3 linked regions of the Homo sapiens genome follow. The protein of the gene in region 3 interacts with the protein of the main gene of each other region in a biochemical or structural test. Each region holds a gene or a part of one and is shown on either strand. Other genes may lie near its edges.

Evidence for each region. The genes of interacting proteins can lie anywhere in the genome.
Region 1: the proteins of MFAP2 (region 3) and COL4A3 form a complex in vitro, tested with the Homo sapiens proteins (one study listed by BioGRID).
Region 2: the proteins of MFAP2 (region 3) and FBN1 form a complex in vitro, tested with the Homo sapiens proteins (one study listed by BioGRID).

What each region holds. Positions count from the first base shown.
Region 1 is NC_000002.12:227,279,624-227,286,623, forward strand, and holds part of COL4A3 (collagen alpha-3(IV) chain precursor), read left to right. Parts: intron 1-169; coding exon 170-267; intron 268-816; coding exon 817-967; intron 968-1,269; coding exon 1,270-1,383; intron 1,384-2,080; exon of another isoform or gene 2,081-2,166; intron 2,167-2,741; coding exon 2,742-2,909; intron 2,910-4,143; coding exon 4,144-4,233; intron 4,234-4,587; coding exon 4,588-4,722; intron 4,723-7,000. UniProt on the Homo sapiens protein: Type IV collagen is the major structural component of glomerular basement membranes (GBM), forming a 'chicken-wire' meshwork together with laminins, proteoglycans and entactin/nidogen.
Region 2 is NC_000015.10:48,642,710-48,650,419, forward strand, and holds the start of FBN1 (fibrillin-1 isoform a preproprotein), read right to left. Parts: upstream 3,001-7,710; 5' UTR 2,866-3,000; intron 2,262-2,865; exon of another isoform or gene 2,242-2,261; 5' UTR 2,061-2,241; coding exon 1,897-2,060; intron 393-1,896; coding exon of another isoform or gene 326-392; exon of another isoform or gene 1-325.
Region 3 is NC_000001.11:16,977,409-16,984,801, forward strand, and holds the start of MFAP2 (microfibrillar-associated protein 2 isoform a precursor), read right to left. Parts: upstream 3,213-7,393; 5' UTR 3,179-3,212; intron 907-3,178; 5' UTR 866-906; coding exon 829-865; intron 388-828; exon of another isoform or gene 261-387; intron 1-260. UniProt on the Homo sapiens protein: Component of the elastin-associated microfibrils.

The DNA.
Region 1 (7,000 bases), on a different chromosome or scaffold from region 3:
TGTAATTTGATTTGGAACTTTTAAAAAATTGCTAATTTATCAGTTGGTTTTATTATCATTTAAATTTTCATAAAAGCATCTCTAGCTGGTTGAGAGATAAGAGAGTTACTGCTCAGAATATTTCAATAAGACTAATCCTACAACAATGTTTATTGTTTTTTCTCTGTAGGAGACCAAGGTTTTCCAGGTACAAAAGGATCACTGGGTTGTCCTGGAAAAATGGGAGAGCCTGGGTTACCTGGAAAGCCAGGCCTCCCAGGAGCCAAGGTATGCAAAAATTCAAGCTATCACAGAAGAGAGGGTGGGTGACCATTAACTGGCCAGTTTGTATGCACTTATCTGGCAGAGCACTCTAGATGTAGAAATGATCAATATATTTGTAGATGATGAAGATATTAAATTTTTTAAATGTTTCTCTGGATCATCTTCCATTTTAGAAAGGAAAACATAAGGTGTCAGAATGCAGATTTCATCGTGATATCATCTTTAATGGTTTCATAAATAATCAGAGTATTTAAAATGGGACAACTCTAGAAAGAAATGTGGTTAGCTATAAGAAAAACTATCAAAAGTAAAAACATCTAGATTTTTCTCTTTATAGACAATCCCACAGTCTTCTGAAAAAGTGGAGGCTACATATCCTGAAGTATTATTAAACATAATCTTACAGAAAAGTCAGCAACTAGAGCTCAAAAAGGAAAGTTGATGACATGGTAGTGGCTGTGCAACAGGGACTTAGAGCCTCCATAACAGAGAGTCAATATCAGTGAAGATTTGGAAGCACTATATAGTAATAACACAATTTCTATGCTGTAGGGAGAACCAGCAGTAGCCATGCCTGGAGGACCAGGAACACCAGGTTTTCCAGGAGAAAGAGGCAATTCTGGGGAACATGGAGAAATTGGACTCCCTGGACTTCCAGGTCTCCCTGGAACTCCAGGAAATGAAGGGCTTGATGGACCACGAGGTACAATAGCAAGTGTCATTACTTTTCTCCACTGTGAGCTCTGCTAAAATGCAGCAAACTGAATGTGAAGGTGTTCTAGGCATGAAGAATTCTCCCATCCAATGTTCCTGCCCTACCTTTCTTCCTTCTTTCCTTCTTCCTTCCTTCTTTTTTAATGAGTGCCCTCTAGAAAAGGCATATTAATGGCAGTAAATATAGATCTGATTTAGGTGGAAAAAAAGTTAACAGAAGAATGACTGGTACAGCAATACCAAGACCTTAAGTTCTAGCACCTGGGTATATACTTGTGCTTTCTTTTGCAGGAGATCCAGGGCAGCCTGGACCACCTGGAGAACAAGGACCCCCAGGAAGGTGCATAGAGGGTCCCAGGGGAGCCCAAGGACTTCCAGGCTTAAATGGATTGAAAGGGCAACAAGGTAGGAGGAGGGCCTCAAAACTGGCCACCAGAAGGGCAGGAGACATGAGACTCCTGCTCTGTGCTTTGCTGCTTAACATGGGAACTGTCCAGCCACAAGTCCTGACCACTGTTCAATGAGAAATACTTCAGAAGTGTAAACCTTGCTGTTATGGGTTTGTTGCACACAGTAGTGTGTACCACCTATAAAGGAAGAAACTTGAAGTTAATATAGTGAGTTGCTTTGTGTCTTTTATGCAAGAAAAATATGAATGCTGAAGACAGAGATTGGTGTGTGTTTACATATATTTATATACATATTAAATTCTCAGAAAACATTTTACCTTTAATATTTTCATAAATATATTAAAGTGGTAAGTTTATCCTTATTATTAAAATAGGGTAAATGTATGCAATGATACCAGTTTAAAAACTTATAAACTAAAATATGTAGTTGATTGTTTTACATACAATATAAAAGAAAAAACATGAAAATAAATCTAAATGATGCAGGCTAGATGTTCCAGATGATGGAAAACTTTGTTTTTGGATCCTCTCCTCATCAGATCTGATGAACTGTTCCTGGAAAAATGTATTTAGAAATCAGTTAATGTCTGTGGTCTATCATACTGCTTATATGTTCACAAATAAATTTTTGACCAAGACCTTAACTGTTACAGTGGCATTATTATTTTTTCCAGAGGCATCCAGTGGCTTACCTCTATGCGAACGGCTCTGTATGTCTTCTGCAGGAAACAGAGTGAGCAGCACTCATAAGGTGCAGTCCCAGAATGTGTCTGCAGGACTAGAAAATAGATATAAAGACTACACTTGTATTACTGCATAAATCATTGGAGCAGAGAATGTTAGAGCCAGAAGGGAGCTCAGAAATTTTACAGAGGGGACATTAAATACATACACACACACATGCGCACGCATGCGTAAGTGTGCAGTTACCCCAAATCACAAAGCTAAATATTTACAGCCATAAAATATTTCTAAAGTGGCCGGGTGCAGTGGCTCATGCCTGTAATCCCAGCACTATGGGAGGCCGAGGTGGGCGGATCATTTGAGGTCAGGAGTTTGAGACCAGCCTGGCCAACATGGCAAAACCCCATCTCTATTAAAAATACAAAACTTAGCTATGCATTATGGTGCACGCCTGTAGTCCCAGCTATTTGGGAGGCTGACGCAGGAGAATCACTTGAACCAGGGAGGCGGAGGGTACAGTGAGCCGAAATCGCCCCACTGCAATCCAGCCTAGAAGACAGAGGGAGATTCCATCTTAAAAATATATATATATATATATATATATATTTCTGAAGTTAGTAGGGGAAAGCATTTGTGGGTTAATTAATTCATTCATTTATTCGTACACAGGCAGAAGAGGTAAAACGGGGCCAAAGGGAGACCCAGGAATTCCAGGCTTGGATAGATCAGGATTTCCTGGAGAAACTGGATCACCAGGAATTCCAGGTCATCAAGGTGAAATGGGACCACTGGGTCAAAGAGGATATCCAGGAAATCCGGGAATTTTAGGGCCACCAGGTATCCTTTTGTGTGTTTCTATTTTTCTTCTTATTTCTTCTTCTTCTTAAGGTGGCTCTGTCAACTGTACATAGGCATACGCTTTTTACTCTATGCTTTTACTTAATATAAGGTTTTCCTTCTAAATTATTTGTAAGAAACCAGGGGCCATGGTGCAGGGAAACGGTGGCGGCAGGATGAACAATTACCCAGAATGTGGCTATTTTTGCTGTGTAATCCTTTTTATATACGACTACTATAATATACTTGCTAGTATTTTGTTGAGAATTTTTGCATTTATATTGAGAAGGGATATTGGTCTGTAGCGTTCTTGTGATGTCTTTGGTGTTGGTGTCAGAGTAATGCTGGTCTGATGGAACAAGCTGGGAAGTGTTTCCTCCTCTTGTATTTTCTGGAACAGTTTGTGAAGAATCGACGCTCTTTAAACATTTGGTAGAATTCACCAGTGAAGTTATCTGGGTCTGGGCATTTCTTTTTGGGAAGTCTCTAAATGACTAATTCAATCTCTTCATTTCTTATAGGTATATTCAGGTTTTCTATTTCTTCTGGAGTCAGTTTTGGTATTCTGTTTCTCTAGAAACTTGTCCATTTTTATAAGTTATCTGATTTGTTGTTGTTGTTCATCATATTTCTGTATAATTGTTTTAATTTCATGGCTATGTTTATTGTTTATATGTTTGGGGAGAATATTCTGTTCCCTCATGGCATAAGGACCTCACCGATCTCCCCTCTGGAAAAGAGCCTAAAACAACTTAATCGACACATTATCCTTTCATTCATGTTATTGGGCTACTATCACATGCCAGCATTCTTCTAGGCCCTAGAGACACATCAGTCAGTGGACAAGTCTCCCCTTCTCATAGTAGAGGATCAATAATAGAAATATTTAAAATCTAAGTTCAATTTGAGACAAGTGTTATGAAGAAAATAAAGTGAAGGGATAGAATAGAAAGTGACTGGTCAGGGGCTGGGAGGATGGAATGCTCCAAAACTTCCACATATGCTATCCTCATCCATGAATATGATTTGCTACCAATCACTTCCACATAGGTGAGTTTAAAAGACCACTTACCGACCCATCTCCTAGACTAATACAGTAATTGTACTATGTACAGAGGCCATTTTTTCAACTCCCAATCTCTGCTTCTAAGTATAATTTATTTTAGTATATGGAATATTTTGCTTTTCTCACTCTGTACAACACGTGCTGCTTTGTGTTAATTTGTTTCCATAGGTGAAGATGGAGTGATTGGGATGATGGGCTTTCCTGGAGCCATTGGCCCTCCAGGGCCCCCTGGGAACCCAGGCACACCAGGGCAGAGGGGTAAGTGATAGAGTGTCTTTCTAAATAGCAGGAAGCATAAACAATGTTCATTTATTTTGCAGCAAAAAAAGTTATGTTTCATTGGAGGGAAAAATAGTTCTGAGAGAGCAACAGTATTTGATTTTGCTGTTTTCTATGTTCCTTTTCTCCATTTGAATGGAATCCTGTTTTCTGTAGGCTTACACCACTACCCTTATGAGGCTGCCTGCCTGGGGAAACTATTTATCAAGTTCTCAGCACTGTTAGCCTTTTTTGTTTGATTTGTTCTGTTTTATAGTAAGCACTGCCAACTTTTTAATCCCTATGAACTACCTGAAGAATTAAGGACCTGATGTTGTTACTCCTGTCTGTTAGGGAGCCCTGGAATTCCAGGAGTAAAGGGCCAGAGAGGAACCCCAGGAGCCAAGGGGGAACAAGGAGATAAAGGAAATCCCGGGCCTTCAGAGATATCCCACGTAATAGGGGACAAAGGAGAACCAGGTCTCAAAGGTAAAGAATTGCTTGTTTGGAATCAGGACATCAGAGCTGATTCTCAGGCTAATAAATTATCCAGGCAAATCCGTTTGGTTGACAAATAAGGACAGTGAGGGCCAGTGTTTAGTTACCTGCCCATCACACAGCCGGTTGGTGGCTGAGCAGGCCTTAGAACTGAGTCACCTTCCACGACATGTTGCCTCCTCGATGTGTAACATTTTTATTTCTAAGTTAATTCTGCATTTTAATTTGCTATATTTAAATCATCAGCAGTCAGTTTTTAAATTATAAGCCTCAAAACTCCCTCTTTGCCAAGTATGGGGAAAATTAAACCCTTAAAAAAATTCCACATTAAAAAACTTTTCTGGCTGATGTTGAAACCTCCATCTCAAATTCAACTTTATTCTGTAGACTACCAGAATAATATTTTCTGATTCTATCTAAAAACTTCTTCTCCTGTTCAAAATCCTTTGGAGAATAATTACTAAAAAGAAATGCTTCAATGAAAATTTAACCCTTTAGAAAGACTGTTGTTAGATGTGGCTACTAGGCTAAAATTCAAACCCATTCACATTATTTCAAGTTATTTGGGCCCTTTTTATGGCAGTTTTCATGATATGATCAATACGACCAATATAAAACCAAATTTTCAGAAGCCCTCCCTTGCAGTCTTCTTGACCAAATGTAATCCCAAGCAACTTTAGAAAAACAGAGAACTGCTGGGTAAAATATTACATTTGCAGATCAGACTCTCATAGCAGGAAAGGAATAAAAGAAAAATGTATCATGGCAAGAAAGGAAAAAAGAAAAATGTGTTTGCAGTTGCAAAACCATGTTAAGTTTTGAGATATTTGAAATGACTTTTGAGAAATGAGACTGTGTTCAACAAATATTTATATGCATGGCACATGAGGATGTAACAAACCTTCACATGTACTGCCAAACCTAAAAAAAAAAAAAAAAAAAAAAAAAAATTTGCACAGGGTGCTGTAGACTACAATATAAAGGCTGACTAACTGGCAAGTTAGGAAGTAAAGGCCTTCTATGTACATAGTCCTCATCTAACCTGGTGTTGAAGAGACACTTTAGTTCTGGTACAAAAAGAATATTGCATTTCATTTTTAGCAATGAAAAAGAAAGTAATGCGACTTTTATAAAACTCTGCTAGGACTAGTCTAAGCCAAGATATGAAAAAAAAAAATACTGGCACCAATCTCCAGTCCTCATAAACTGTCTGCATAGACACCACTTCACTAGACTATTTTAGATTATTTAAGTAGTGTTAGAAACATTTTGGAAAAAATATGAATAGCATATCTCTGCCTACATAAGCAGAAATTTGGCGCTCACAGTATAAATGCGCAGTGAGTACTAATTTGCAATTGAAGAATTCCTTTTGTAAAGTACAGAAGGACACATGATATGGGGCTATTTCTATACTTCCAACAAAACTCTTTTACTCACCCTAAGTACAGTATGCATCGAGGCTGTTCTGTATGTTTTCTTTAGGCTTTTCAAATGCATAACCAAGGGACACAGATTGAAGAACAACAAAAAAATAACCTGTATCTAGGCCTCCCTAATTTCAATATGATCCATTTATTTTTCTAAATCTGAATTTCTGACTTAAAGCTATTCACTTCAAATGTGGAAGAGATATTGAATATACAGAGAAGCACAATAACAAGTCACTATCCTCTCCACAAGGAGGCTGCGTGGCAGACTTAGGCATATGTAGAAAAAGATAATAAAGACGCGAGGTGCAAATTAGCATGCTATATTATTTAACAACGACCTAAGTAGCATTTACCATGTGCAGGTACTGTTCCAAGTTTTACAACTATTGACTCATTTAATCCTCACAATAACCCTAGGAGTAGGCTGGGCACAGTGGCTCACGGCTGTAATCCCAGTATTTTGGGAGGCCAAGGCGGGTGGATCACCTGAGGTCAGGAGTTCGAGACCAGCCTGGCCAACATGGCAAAACCCCATCTCTACTAAATATACAAAAATTAGCCAGGGTGGGCGGGGTGGGGAGCCTGTAATTCCAGCTAGTCAGGAGGCTGAGGCATGAGAATCGCTTGAACCTGAGAGGCAGAGGTTGCAATGAGCTGAGATTGTGCCACTGCACTCCAACCTGGGCAACAGAGTGAGGCTCTGTCTCAAAAAATAAATAAATACATAACCCTAGGAGTAGGTACTACTATTGCAATCATCCCATTTTACATACGGGGAAATAGGGAGGTCAAGTTACTTGCCCAATGACACTCTGATAGGAAATGGCAGAGATGGG
Region 2 (7,710 bases), on a different chromosome or scaffold from region 3:
TTATTATAAAATCTTATAATTAACATGAGAATTAGGAACACACATAATTACAATTCTATTAATACCCTGTTTTTAGGAAGGCTTTATAAATAGTTTACAATAGGATAAGGTCTGTGTTAATGATCAAATACTGTGAGGAGCACAGAGAGGTATCTCTCTATAATCACAAACAAATTTAAAACCAGAGAGAAAAAGCACAAGTGTGAGTAAAAGTGTGGCATCCTGTTAAGCAACAAAGTAAAGCTTAGTTTCTTTTTTCACATTCCCAAGGGAACACACTAGTTGGTGACAGCCCAGAGAAATGAGACAAATGTCTGACCAGGCCTCACACCTCTCTGCAGATCTTCAGCCACAGAATTAAATCCCCACGTCCTTTATATACAGGAGCAATCCTATCAGAATAGATATTAAGATATTATTATGTAGGAGAAATGTATTTTTGAAGGAAAAATACTGGACTAAATGAGGTCCTCTTGAGAACATATGAAAATCAGAGCCTCAGTCTACTTATTGAACTTGCCATGTGCCTTGCACACAGGGCAATAAACATCTGCTGTCTGATCAAGGTCAGGTTTACCATGATAAGCAAACTTCCTTCCAACATTATCGGAATTCTGGGTTTATTTTCCACGAAGGCCAAGATGGAACCGAATTAATCATAACTATTTTCTGTGCTATTTTATCACAGCCTAAGTGCTTGGCTCATACAATCATCTTGTCCTTACTCCAGACTAGGAGTCAAAAACTGGTCTGGTGAGTTTACTTTTTCTTCTCATATCTGGGCCATACAAACACAAATTTTACTACATATACATGACTATAACACCTCATAACAAAAAAAGAGTAAGTGAAATGAACAGCCACATATCCAAGTGGATACCATCACTTGGTGACCCAGAGCTATATAATAAAGCTACAGAACCACTCAGGAAAAGAGCATCAGCGAGAATGGTAAGAATTTAATACAAAATCTCCCTATATATACTGTCTGAATTTATTTAACAGGCTCCTCCAAGAAGATAAAAGGGGTCACTGACAGTCCATCCTGTTGTTTCCATGGAGGCTTTAACTTAAACAACTGCAGACAAATTTCTCTTAAAGGAAATGTATTCCCACTGTCCTTCAATACAGGAAAATGACAACCCTTAGTCAAGTCTAATTAAAATTTTTCCGGCTGAAACATCTGTAACAGCGGCATGGGAAGCCAGTGAAATGGTCAGTTGCATGTACACAACACAAACACCACTAGTTAAAAATACTCCCTTAAGGCCGGCCACAGCAGCCTTACTGCTGCAGTGAAACGGAGAGCCCCACACAACTCAAAAAACCAGTTCTCAGAACCACTTGCCCTGTTCTGCTTCCAATGTAGACATCTAAAGGAAGCATTGCCCAGAAAACCCAATCCGTAATTTTAATAAGCATAATTTACGGAAGAGTCAACTACTGTGTGATTTCTCCTCTGACTGTCATGGGAATCCCTTCCTTTCCTTGCCCCCTTTCAAATACAGCATCTACCAAGATGACCCCAAGGAAAGTACTTTCCTCTAGAAACAACCAGAATTGATATTGCAGGGAAAGGAACGGGCTTCTCCTCTTATCCCACTCGCAACTCCTCCCCTTCTTCCCCAAGGAACTCTTCTCGCCTCCCAAAATCTGCCTCAACAATGGCCCAAGATTCCATTTAACCACGTCCTCTCCTTTGGGGCAGAAATCTCTGGGAGTAGGGGCAAGGTAGTTTAACCACGAACGGGGTGGGGACTAAACAACCCTAGCACCTCTAAGGTGCCCCCAGGAGGTCTTGCCAAGGAGTCTTCCACAGGGAGAGTCATCCTGCCCGTTGTTCTGGATCTTGAAACTTGGGAGACCCACACCAAAGGAGGGAACCGGTTCCTTTACCCTTTAAGCGCGTCGTGTCCTCCACCGCCTCTTCTCTTGGCCCGACTGGCTCTGGTTTCCTTCACGTTCCCAGCCTCCAAATTGGCGTCCGCCCCATGGCTCGTGTAGGACGCTAAAAGCACGGTAAATCCCAGGGCGATCTCCAGCAGACGCCCTCGACGCATGATGCCGAGCCGCCACCGGCTCCCGCCGCCTCTTGCCGCGCCCGGGGCTCGGTCTGCGGCCGCCGCTGCGCCCTGAAGCGCACCGCGCCGCCGGGGTCCCGCTATCCCGCCGCCCGTCCCCCGGGCCGGGCTCCTCCCGCCTTCTCCAGGCGCTGCTCCCACTTCAGGCGGCCCCTGCCAGCTGCAACACAGAGACAAATCCCCGAGGCGGGGAGACTTTCAGGGCATCGGGATGCTGAAGCCTCGCGGTCCCCATTCCCAAGCCCAACCCGTGCGCCGCCTGCGCGTGGCGCAGTTAATTTGGGTAAGGGAAGACCGTTTGGTCCACAGCTGGCTGGAAAGCCCAGGCCCCCGGCGGCAGCAGCCCCGGCCGATCCCTCGGCCTCCCGGGCCCCGCCAGAAGAGCGCGGCGCAAAGTACCCATATCCCCAGCGGTCCTAAGCCCCGGGCGAGCTCTCTGGGTTTATTTTTTTTAGCGGCACGAATTGCGCGCGATGCGCGCTCTGAACGCCCCACTCCTCAGCCTGCCCTCTCCGCCAGGCTGGAAGCCAGCCGCGCCGTCCCCGCCGACTCCGGGCGATGCCACCGCCCCCCGAACATCTGACGCGGAGCCCGGCACCAAGAGCCCCGGGCCAGGAAGCTGTCAGGCAGGGGAGGGCCAGCGCCAGCTGTGGACGTTCCGGGACAGCCCCTCACCCCAGTCCCTGTCCCTGCCCTCGGCGCGGCGCAAACGCAAAAGCCTCCGTGGCCGCAGCTCCAGCCCCGGTGGCCGCCCGACCCCCGTCGGGACCCCGGCTGCACCCACTGGAGAAGCGGCGGCTCCGACTCCCGAGGAGGCGGCGGCGGCTGCTCCCAGTCGTGGCCGCTACAGCCACTGCTCGGCTCCGCTCGCAGCTGTCCCAGCTGTGGCTCCTGTCCGCTTGTGGCACCCACAGTCTCTGCCGCGGCTCCCGCAGCCCCCTCCTTTCCCCACCTCTTCAAGTATCGTCCGCGCAGCGGTTTCTCGCGAGAGAAATACTTTTTTTAAAAAAAGAAAGAAAAAGAAAATGACACCCCCTCCTTCGTCGCCCTCATCACCACCCCACCCCCCGGCCCCATCCATCCTCCCTTTCCACTCCCCTTTGCCAGCCTCCGCCTCGGTGCGGGGCCTCTCGCTCGCAGGATTAGCGCAGTGGGAGGAGGCAGAGGTGATCAGGTCCTGCCCGGCCTGGGACTTTTTGTCTTGAGGTGGGGAGGGGAGAAATGGGAAGAGGTGGAGTAGCGGTTTTAGCCCGCTCTGCGGCTGCGAGGTTTAGATCCGAGATTAACCTCTCCCGCGATAGGTGAAGCCCTACCGGAGCAGAAAGCTGTTCCACCTGCACCAAGAATGCGCGCTGGAGACGGTTGCCCCGGAGGCCCTGGCCCGAGAGAAAACCAGTCCCCGCTGCCCGCGCCTCCCGGTAGCGCGCTCCCTGCGCCTCTCCCGCCGGACACTCAGCAGACGCCGGAGGCCGGGAGGCTAAGACTGGGCGCGTCGCAGGCCGGGACCGCGGCAGAGGCTGCTGTGCCGACCGAGGAGAGGGCTCTGCCGCCCCCACTTGCCCTGGGTGTCGAGAGCCCACTCCAGACGCGGCTCTTCTGAGGCTCAATTCAAGCCACCCAGGCCTGAATCCAGGGTGCTCTCTCTAAGTCGGTGTCCAACCCAGGGGCCTGTAAATGTTGGAACCTAGGATGTAGGATGGGAGCGGTGAAGGGATGGTCCTCTTGCCCAGCCCAGATTAAGACTGGGGTTCATCTGGAGGACTCTACTTACACCCTCCCGGTCCCCTCGCCCTCCCCCACACACAGCTGCCTCTCCCCAGGATATGCGCGGCACAGTGAATTTAGTGGCTTTGAAAGGTATAGTATTTGTGGCATCCTTATATGGATAATGCCCAATGATGCCTGCACCCTGTAACAGTTTAGGAAGGCCTGAAGTCGCACACTGGGTCCTGGCTGCTGTAACTGGAGACCCCCAGAAGATCCCCTGCAAGCAGCCACCAGCCTGCTGTCAAGCCAATAATAAAAGCTCAGCACAAACAGGTACCCTGGGAATGTATCTTGTTGAAAGGGATTTTCCTTATTTGTAACCGTTTGTAAAGGGGCCCAGACAGTAGGGTAGAGAGACCTGGGCAAGTTATTCAACTTCTTTCCAAATACAAGATGGGACTTGTAGTGTCCACCACACAGGGTTGTAATGGTGATGATGGACATGCTGAACTGCTGTGATACATGAAGATGAAACAGAAAAACTGTGGGAACTATGAGCTGATCTAAAGCCATAGTCCTGTAAGTATGTATGTGGTGTACTTTAAGGTCTCACCTGCAAAAGGTCTCTTAGCAGATTCATGAATGAGAGCCTTGGTCACACACTCCTGGCTGAGTAAAGGAGATCATTCATTCAAGATGTTTTTACTGAGCACGAACTGTGTACTACTTAGTGCATTGTTGAACTAGACTTCAACAATTTTAACAAGGCAGGTTCAACAATTTGAACACGACTGACTTCAACAATTTAGTGAAAAGGGCAGAAATGTGTCTCCCCTCACACAGCAGGTAGTCAACAAGGAAAGGCAGACTTGAAACAAATAATGGACCAATTGTTAAGCGCCAAACAGGATAAGTACTGGGTGCTTGCTTGGAGGATATATAACAAGGGGACTTGACCTAGGCTAGGGCTGATCAGGAAAGGGATCCCTGAGGAAGTGATATTTAACTTAAGTCTAAAACATAACTAGACTCTACTTAGGATAGCAGTTCTCAACCCTGGCTATGCAGTAAAATAATAAGAGGCTTTAAAAAAATTCTGACACCAGGATGGGCATGGTGGCTCATGCCTGGGCCTGTAATCCCAGCACTTTGGGAGACCAAGGCGGGTGGATCACTTTAGACCAGTAGTTCAATAGCAGCCCGACCAACATTGTGAAACCCTGTCTCTACTAAAAATACAAAAATTAGCCAGGTGTGGTGGTGCATGCCTGTAAATCTTGCTACTCAGGAGGCTGAGGCACTAGAATCGCTTGAACCTGAGAGGTAGAGATTGCAGTGAGAGGAGATTGTGCCACTGCACTACAGCCTGGGCAGAACAGAGTGAAACTCTGCCTCAAAAAAAAAAAAAAAAAAAAAAAATCTGACACTGACACCAGGCCCCAACACCCAGAGTTTCTGATTTGAGTAGTCTGTAGTGGATTCTTCACATGGATATTTTTTAAAGCTCCCTGGGTAGGGAGGGGTAAGGAGGTAATTCACACTGGGAAAAGGATCTGAGCAGAGGGACCATGGATTAGGAGAAAGCAGGGCTGTTGGACATCCAGAAAGGCCTTGTCCTGCCCACCAGTTTTCTGGGCTGCTCTGCACCCACAGGGGACTCTGGAAACTGCATGCTTTCCTTGTACTCCAGCAGCATGCAAGACATGCTGTGCCCTTTCTCTCAGAATCTTACACTCAGTGACATGTTGGTCAGCAGCAACCAAACACAAGCCTTTTCTAAGGCTTCTGCCCAGGAAGTAAAGGCCAAATCCTGGTGCCCTGCAAGTCCCCTCTTCCAACATTTCTGGACATTTCTATTATTTCTAACTCAAACTGCCTTCCAGGGTTTCACCTCCAAGGGAGGGATTTGGATTAAACGTTTTTACCTGGCCTTTGCTTTCCCCGGCAACCTCCTCTTTATTCATTGGCCTCTTTCTCCAATAAAGGAAAGATTCTTCCTTCATATTGGGTGGCAGCTCCAAGCCATATACTCCCCTCTTTGAGCAATAAGTCTCATGTTCTGACCACAATGGTGGAAGATTACAGGGGAAGGGGAAGCAGGGGGAACTTGATTACTTAAAAGTAAATACATTTTAAATATACAAGAACTATTCCCGCTATCTAGGCAATCAACATGTATTAGAGTAGCATGCTACTTATGACAAAATTCAGTAACGAATAATAAAAATCTGTGTCTTTGCAATAAGATTTTCTTGATGCCAGATGATTGAGGACCCAACTCTCCTTAAACCTATCACAGACTTTTTTTTTTTTTTTCGTAATAGGTTGTTTTGCACTGTTTGCAAATTAAGTCCATGGGCTAGAATTCCTTGCTTCCATCTCCTTATTTCAAAGAATTCTATTCACCCTAAGAAACCTTGCTCAGATTCCTTCTTGTTCGTAGGTGTTTTAGCTCATGCCCATCTCTCTTGTTCTAACATCATTGCACTTATTAACTGAATCATTCACTTAATAGTTAATACATAATTATAGTATGCCTACTATATGCCAAGTGCCATGTCAGGCACTGGACATTAGGGATATTTCTTCTGTTGCTATAGTGAACTATTAGGTTGGCACAAAAGTAATTGCAGTTTTTGCCATTTAAAAGTACTAGCAAAACCGCAATTACTTTGGCGTCAACCTAAATATATATTTTTTTTCTGTAGCCATTGTACTTACTCCCCCTAGCTGTATGATAGATCCTTAAAGACAAGGTGGCATTCCTTATTCAAGGAAACTTGCTAGTGTCCTGAAAACTATGACAAAACACAAATACTTTGTTTGTTGTTGGATCAATTGAAATCTTTCTTTTTTTTTTTTTTTTTTTTGAGACAGTGTCTCGCTTTGTCACCCAGGCTGGAGTGCAGTGGCGCGATCTCGGCTCACTGCAAGCTCCACCTCTGGGATTCACGTCATTCTCCTGCCTCAGCCTCCCAAGTAGCTGGGAATACAGGCACCTGCCACCATGCCTGGCTAATTTTTTTGTATTTTTAGTAGAGATGGGGTTTCACCGTGTTAACCAGGATGATCAATTGAAATCTTGTGGCATTTTCAGCTTCAAGCCACTCTCATCATTTTATACCTCCTGTATAAATATCTATGTCAGCAAGGGTTCTTTGTCTACAAGCAAGAAAACTAGCTATGGAAAATTTCAGCAAAAAAAAAGATATTTTAAGTATTATCAGGTTATGAGATGGCTCATTGAACTTGACTTTGTGATAAAATGGGGAGTAGTACAGTTCTGGGATAATGGTAAGCAGAGAACCTCTTCAGGCTGATGTCATGTGAGTAAATCAATTCCAACCATTTTCATCTTTTTGCCACCCCTCTTGGAGTTCAAATTCAAAGGACAGGGTCCTTTTGACGTAGCTATTTAGGGAACTTGGGCACAATCCTGGCCAAAGGATGATGGAGTATCTTGATGGATAGTCCCAACAAGATTGCATGCCATGGGAAAAGGGTTCATCTATAAAAGATGGGCAAAACACTATTTTGGTCATGCACCAAAAATTGAAGGGCATTAATGCTTGTCAGGAGAAAAAAAAAAAATCCAGATGTCCATTACATCATCTCAAGAACTCTCAAGATGTTTAGAGCTTACTGAAATAAAGCATTTTCAAGCTTTACTTGGAAGAAGCATACTCTAAAATCAGCTTCTACGTCTTCCTTTGCAAACTAAATCATGACTTCACAAAAAGCTAACTAGACTTTCATGTAGCCTCAGTTCCTGCCATTGATGGTGGCAAATAGATCACTCATGATACAACCAACTATATCTTCAAAAATTGGCTTCTGACTTTTAGTGAGTATTGTAGAATTTTGTAGTTATAAAAATGTAATGCATATATCACAGCTACCAGAAACCATACCTATTTATATA
Region 3 (7,393 bases):
CCTTCCTGTTGCTGGCCTCCTGGCTGCTCCTAGGACTCCACATGCTCCTGCCTCCCTCAGAGCCTTTGCACCTGACACTCCCTGGGCCTGTGAGGCCTGCTCAGCTCCTTCAGGTCTTCCCTGGAATTTCAGCTGTGCCAAGATGCCGCCCCACCTCCAGCCCACCAGCCCTCCTGCTGATTTCTGTCCAGCACTCAGCACATGCTGGAGTTTCTCATGTCTGCTTGTTTCCTATTTGTCTCCCTTCCCTGGACTGGCAGCATGATGAGGAGCAACGATGTGTCTGCCTGGTTCATCGCTGAATCCCCAGGGCCTAGCCCAGCACTTGGCACGTGGTAGGGACTCAACACATCGCTGCTGAATGAATGAATGTTGGCCCTGCTAGGACTTTTGTGGTCCTCATTGATTCTCTTCATTTGGCCAGTAGGGACCCCCACAAGGTCAGGACTGTATAGAGCAGAAGGGCCCTGAATGGATCTAGAACTCAAGCATCCGGACTCCCTGCCTTGGGTGCCCCTGCACCTGCACATCGGCTCCCAGAGAGGCCTTGTGCCTTGTGCCCACGGAGTCCTTGTGCCTGGGACGTGCCCTCCAGAACCCTGCCTGCCTGCTGCTGTGGAAGGCTGGGGGAAGGGCCAGGAGCTGCCTCCAGATGCTGCCAGGGTTGGCTGGTCCAGTCTGTGGTCCAAGCAGGCAGAAGGCCCTGGGAGCTGGGGAGCTGAGTTCTGGTCATAAGTCGTGACAAAGGCTCACTATGAATTCCCCCTACTAACCCTACTCCTCAGCCCCACATAAGAGGAGCTACCCCCTGCCCCAGGAGCCACTTACCAGGCAGGAATAGCAGGAAGAGGTAGGCAGCTCTCATGGCAACAAAGAGGCAGGCCGGGGTGGTGTCAGAGAGGACAGCTGGGGAAAGACCGGTGGGAGAGCTCTACCCAGGGCCACACCCAGGACAGCAGAGCTCACCTTTGATCCCCTGATTTCGCCCTGGAGAAGGTGGCACCCAGAATAGAAGCCAGGCATGGGAGGGCTGGAGTGGAGGGACATCCCAGTCCCTGCTGGCCCACCCAGGTGTTCAGGTCACAAGGGACAAGGCCTCCAACCCAGCTCCAGGGCTGATCCTGACAAGCAAACCCCGTGTAGTGGGTGTACTTGATGTGGTCAGGGAAGGGCGGACCCTGCCCTGCTCACTAAGGGGACATTCCTAATGTGCTCCCAGCCCAGGCCATTCTGTCCTCACCCACACCCGTGCTCAGCCCTCTGGCCCAGTGGCTCCCTGGGTGTCCAAGGCACTGACTGCGTGAATCACTGAACCCAGGCCCATCCTTGGGACCCCAGCCCTGGCCAGCCGGCATCACCGCCTGGACTCAGCAGCTTCTGCCAAGCCACCACCTGCTCCCAATTAGCCCCTGGGCCCTAAGCATCCTGCTCAGCAGGAAACCACATACACATGGGCCTGCCCGGCCCCCAGAGCGGCCAGGCCGGGCAGGGCTCCCAGCTCCCAGAAGACTCCTCTCCTGCCAGGCCTCCAGGCCTCGCAAGACCTGGCTGTGTGCATCACAGGCTCACGAGACCCGGGCTATTTGCAGCAGCAGGAAGCACGAGAGTGAAGCCTGAGGGGGCTCCTCTGGATCCCAGAAAGGCAGCACTGAAGGGGCCGTGACATCACCCAGGCTGGGGGTTCTGCACCCCCTGACACTGTAGGCAAGTGTGTGTGTCATTTGGAGGGAGAGGGCATGGGGTCCGTGGCTTTCATCAGGCTCCTGACATTCAAGAGCCCAGCCTCCAGTCCTGGCTACACGGTGGGACTTGGGGGAGCCTCCGGTTCCCCACATCCAGCCCCAGCTCAGTGGAGGGCCACCTCAGGTCCGTCAGCCTTCTGTAGGGAGGGCTGCGAGGGCGGGGTCCATCCAGGAGGGCCCCTCCCGGCTGCAACCCAGGAAGTCCTTTCAGAGAGCTAGCTGGAAACCCCAACTTTGGTCTATTTTCCCCACTGGGAGTCCAGGGAGAGGGGAGGGAAAGGGGAGAAAGCAGGAGGTCTTTCCCTCCTTCCTCTCAATCCTGAGGCCTCCTGACCCCCTGGCTCCTCTCATGCATTAGGCACCTCACTAAGGTGGAGTGGGAGCCGGGAGACGAAGCTCAGGACCAAGCTGCCCCAGAGGCGAGGGATAGCTGGCTCCCCACACCCCATTCTGAAAACCCTTGACCTCCTCATGGGAGGGGGATGAAAAGACCCAGAGAGCCTTCCTTGCCCTTCTCCCCATCCGTCAGGTCGGTCGGAGCCCCCGCTGCTCAGCAGAAGGCGCTGAATTGGGGCAAGAGGGGTTGCAAGGTGTTGGGGGATGCCTGTCGGTACCCTGCGGGGAGTCTTCCTCCCCTAGGACTGGCCCCCGAACCCAGGCTTATTGGGGGAAGGAGGCCCACGGGCTAGCGGGGAGGCAGGAAAGAGAGAAGTCAGTGTGGAGTTCATGAACTCCTCCCACGGGACCACATCTCCGAGCTCTTCTAGACGAAGGGGTTTTGGGGCGTGCGGGAGGCCAGGACCTGCCTGGGAGGCTGCCCCACCCCCACCTCTGGCCTCTTCCACAGCTGCGGCCTCCCCCACCCCCGACTCCCCTGCGTCCTGGGAGGTGGGGGACAGGGGGCCCCGACGCTCGCTCAGACATCAGACGGAGGGAGGGCTCTGCCGGCTCCAGAGCCGGGCTCAGGGGGAGGGGTCCCGGCGGGAGAAACCCAGATGTTGCAGCGCCGCACAGCTGGGAACAATCAGCCGCGGAAACTTGCTCCGCGCGCCCTCGCGCTCCCGTCTCTGATCTCTCTTTGTCTCTCTGCGTCTCTGTCTCGGCCATTCCCACCGGACCCCCCCCCCCCACCCCACCCGCCACATTCCAACCTCCCCGGGAGAACAAAAGATGTCCCATCCCCCGACGACCTCACCTCTGGCTCCCCCCAAACTCGGGCTCCCCGCCCTTCCCAATTCGCGTTCTCTCTGCAGAGCAACCCCAAACTTTCCAGGTGCCCCCTTGGCCTCCGCTCTGAAGGCGCGGGGTTCAGGAACCTCCGCGGCTGCCCCAGGATCGAGGACCCAGAGAGCCTGGCACCCTCGCCCCCGCGCCGGGGGACCCGCCGACGCCCCTGACCGCCCCCCGGGGCCCCCAAGCGCCAGGCCCGCGCCTACCTGTCCGGGTCACTCCGCCGCCCGCTCCGAGTCCGCCCGCCGGAGCCGCCCCTTGGCCCGCTCCGAGTCCCCCTCCGGGCCCCCGACGGGGCTGGCGCCCGCCCTCCAGCCCCGGAGCCGCTGGGTCCTAACGCGAGCTGCCCGCATGGGCCGCCACGCCGTGCCCTCGGGGTTCCATCTCCTGGGGGGGGGGGTGTCCCCGGGGTAGAGGCGCCCGGGGCCGTCCTCACGTCTGTGCAAAGCTTCCTCCTCCTCACAGCTGCTCCTCACTCGACGTCGACGGGGTGAGGGGGGTGAGGTGGGCAAGGGTAGGTGTGTTGCCCATTTCACAGAGGAGGAAATCAAGCCTCCCAAAGTGACTCACCCTAGGCCCCTCAGCCAGAAAGTAAGCCTCGATCTCCCTCTGCCTTCTCCCAGCTTCCAGGACACTCTCCTGCCTTGGTTTTCCTTCTGCCTCTCCAGCCAAGCCTGCTGCCTCTCTCAGGCCCGCACCCTCCTCTCCTACACTGCTGAGCTCTGGGCCATGGCTGGCTTCCACAACCAGCGGTTCTTTCTTTCCTTTTCTAGAGACAGGGTCTTGCTGTGTTGCCCAGGCTCGTCTGGAACTTCCGGCCTCGAAATTTTGGCCTCAAGCATTCCTCCTGTCTCATCCTCCTGGGCTGTTGGGATTACAGGCATGAGTCCCTGCCCCCGGCCATAACCAGCACCTCTTTCAGCCCTGACCCAGCCTATGTGTCCCACAAATGTCCTCAAGATGCATCAGCTTCAACAAGCATCCAAGTCCAAATTCACGACCTCCTAACTCTCCCCCAGACCTGGCCCTCCAGGATTCCCAGTCCCCCCTTGGCCCCGCAGCCTTCCATTACCCAGGCTTCCTCCCCTGCCCTTAGCCCTGCATCTAATCCAGCACCCACCCGTGAATGCTACCTGAAAAATTTCTTTTGTGACTCCGTTCACTGCTCCCACCCTGGCCTAAGCCACTGTGAGACCAAGTTGCAATCCCAAGAAACCGCATTTGCTCTTTCTGCTTGTCAGAAGCTGACAAAGCCCTGACTCAGTGACTGGGGGCAGCCCAACGGAAGGATGCCTTGAAGATGGCAGGCAGGGCAGAACACAGGCTCCCACGCCTCTTGCCTGAATCACTGCATTGTTAGAAAATATAAGTTAAATGATCCTGGCTGTGCCTTTTCCTGTACATAAGATAGCACCTGACAGGATTGACGATTATGCCTCTATAATCTATATAACTAGGTGCATCCTCGAACCCAAACCTTGGCGAGATTTGCACTAGTGTAGCTTCTGAAGACATTTGATGTAAATTTTTCTTCTTCTTTTTTTAATGAGACCGGGTCTCGCTCTGTCATCCAGGCTGGAGTGCAGTGGCACCATCACAGCTCACCTCTTGGGCTCAAGTGATCCTTCCACCTCAGCCTCCCAAGTAGCTGGGACTACAGGCAAGAGCCGCCATGCCTGGCTAATTTTTTTTTTTTTTTTTTTTTTTTGTATTTTTTGTAGAGAAGGGGTTTTGCCGTGTTTGCCCAGTCTGGTCTCAAACTCCTGAGCTCAAGCAATCCACCCGCCTCAGCCTCCAAAAGTGCTGGGATTACGGACGTGAGCCACCGTGCCTGACCATAGCTTCTGAGCACACACAGAACCGCCTGCCTCTGTATCTAAACTGTGGGCTGAAATGCTGCTTTGGCGCAGTCTAACAGAAACTCTCTGAAACCCTCTCCCAGGGTGCAGTCCTCAGTAAGACTCAATAAAACTAACTTTAATTTTTTCAATGGCTGATTTTTTTTTTTTTTTTGAAATGGAGTTTAACTCTGTTGCCCAGGCTGGAGTGCAGTGGTGTGACCTCGGCTCCCTGTAACCTCCACCTCCCGGGTTCAAGAGGTTCTCCCAACCCAGCCTCTCGGGTAGCTGGGATTACAGGCACATGCCAGCATGCCAGGCTAATTTTTGCTTTTTTTTTTTGAGTAGAGACAGGGTTTCACCATGTTGGCCAGGCTCCTGACCTTAGCTGATCCGCCTGCCTTGGGTTCCCAAAGTGCTGGGATTATAGGCATGAGCCACTGTGCCTGGCCAAAAGGTGGATTTTTTCTTTTTCTTTTTTTTTGAGACAGGGTCTTGCTATCTCCCAGGCTGGAGTGCAGTGGTGCATCCTCAACTCACTGCAACCTCTGCCTCCTGGGTTCAAGCGATTCTCATGCCTCAGCCTCCAGAGTAGTGGGGACTACAGGCACCCACCACCATGCCTGGCTATTTTTTTTTTTTTTTTTATTTCTCGTAGAGACGAGGCTTCTCCATGTTGTCCAGGCTCGTCTCGTACTCCTGACCTCAGCTGATCCACCCACCTTGGCCTCCCAAAGTGCTGGAATTACAGGCGTGAGCCACTGCACCTGGTCAAAAGGCTGATTTCTTATTTAGTTGACACCACCATCATTTGCCTGGGCTCTGCGATAGCCTCCACTCTGGGCTCTCCCACGTGGGTCCTGCCTCCCTCACCCCCGCAGATCGTGCCCCTTCTACTGATCGCCTTTCACTCAGGTTAGAGGCTCAACTTCCCTGTGGCTTCCAGGGCCCCGGCCCTTTATGGCAGCCTGGCTCTGCCTCCTCTTCCTCCTCCAGCCACTGGCCTTTGGGGGTTTTCTCCCAAACCCCTCTCCCTCCCACACTGAGGCGTTTCTTCCTCCCGAGCACTGGCTGAGGTCTCCTCCATGGGGTCACAGATCAAACCCTCCCTTCCTCAGAGGGGCCTTCCCTTTTTCCTTTTTTTGTGCTTTCTAGCTTTACTGCTTGCAGTTGTCTTGTTGGCCTATGTCTGTGACCATCTGAGCCCTGTCCCTCTTCCCGATGAGACTGTCATCTTGCCCCGTGAAGGCCAGGACCAAGGCTGTTTTTGCTCATCTTCAGTTTTGCTCATTAAGTTCAGAGCCCGGCTCAGAGCAGCAGTTCAGCAAACATTGGTGGAATGAATGAGTGAACTGTACACTAAACTCTTCCCGGAGAAGCTGGCTGGGGGTGCAGATCCTCTGCGTGAGGGGCAGCCTTCAGCCCTGCCCAGGAGCCTAGGCCTGAGGCGGGAGTGAGAGTTGTAGGGGCTGCGGGCTGGGAGGAGATGAGGATGGCCCCTGATTTAGACCCTTGCCATCTGATCTCTTCATCGCCAGTCATTCCCCCACCTCCCTTAGACTCTGAGTCTTAGGGAGGGAGTAAATATGCCCTGTGCCTCCTTCATTCCCATGCCCCGCCCCCCAGTGTCTATTGCAGGGCAGCAGAGACTTTTGTCACCTGGAGAGAGGTGGGCCCTCAGGCCAGGCCAGCCCAGCCCTCTCTGCCTGCCCTTAGACCCCACTGCTGCCAGGAGCAATCCCACTGGCAAAAGAGAGGAACTCACCCAGCAGAAATGCTGTCCCCTACCCTTGAAAAAAGGAGGGAGGTTGGGTGCAGTGGCTCACACCTGTAATCTCAGCAGTTTAGGAGACCAAGGCGGGTGGACCGCTTGAGCCCAGGGGTTTGAGACCAGCCTGGACAGCATGGCAAAACCCCATCTCTACAAAAAATACAAAAATTAGCTGGGTGTGGTGGTGCTGGCCTATAGTCCCAGCTACTCAGGAGGTTGAGGTAGGAGGATCACCTGAGCCTGGGGAGGTAGAGGCTGCAGTGAGCCACGATTGCACCACTGCACTCCAGCCTGGGCAACAGAGCAAGACCCTGTCTGAAAAAAAAAAAAGAAAAGAAAAGAAAAACTGGGAAACTGAGGGGCTAAAGCTGACAATTCGTGTCCTGGCTCCCATGTCCTCTCTGCTGCTTCTACCCATTCCCCTGGCTGTTTCTTTGGGCAGGGGAGGGGATGGGGCTGTGGTTGCTGTGCTCCCACTACGTCTTTGGAGATGTGCTCCTTCCCTGCCAGGCTTTCACGCTGGATGGTGAACTGCTCGCAGGGTTAGACCATGTTTTTGTCCCGTTTTATTCAGTTTGTTGAGTTAGTCCTGGTGCCTGGCACACACCTGTCCAACAGATTCATGAATAATCAGCTAAGGGTAGAGGAGGGATTTGAACCCAGGCCTCTCTGTGGCTTCCTCTTAAACAGCATCTACCACCCTGAACCGTCGCTGGCTGGCAACACAGTGCCAGGAGCAGAGGTCCACTGTGATGTGCCTCCTGGCAGGACTTTCATCTTCACACCCACATCCCTTCTCCCCAGCATGATTC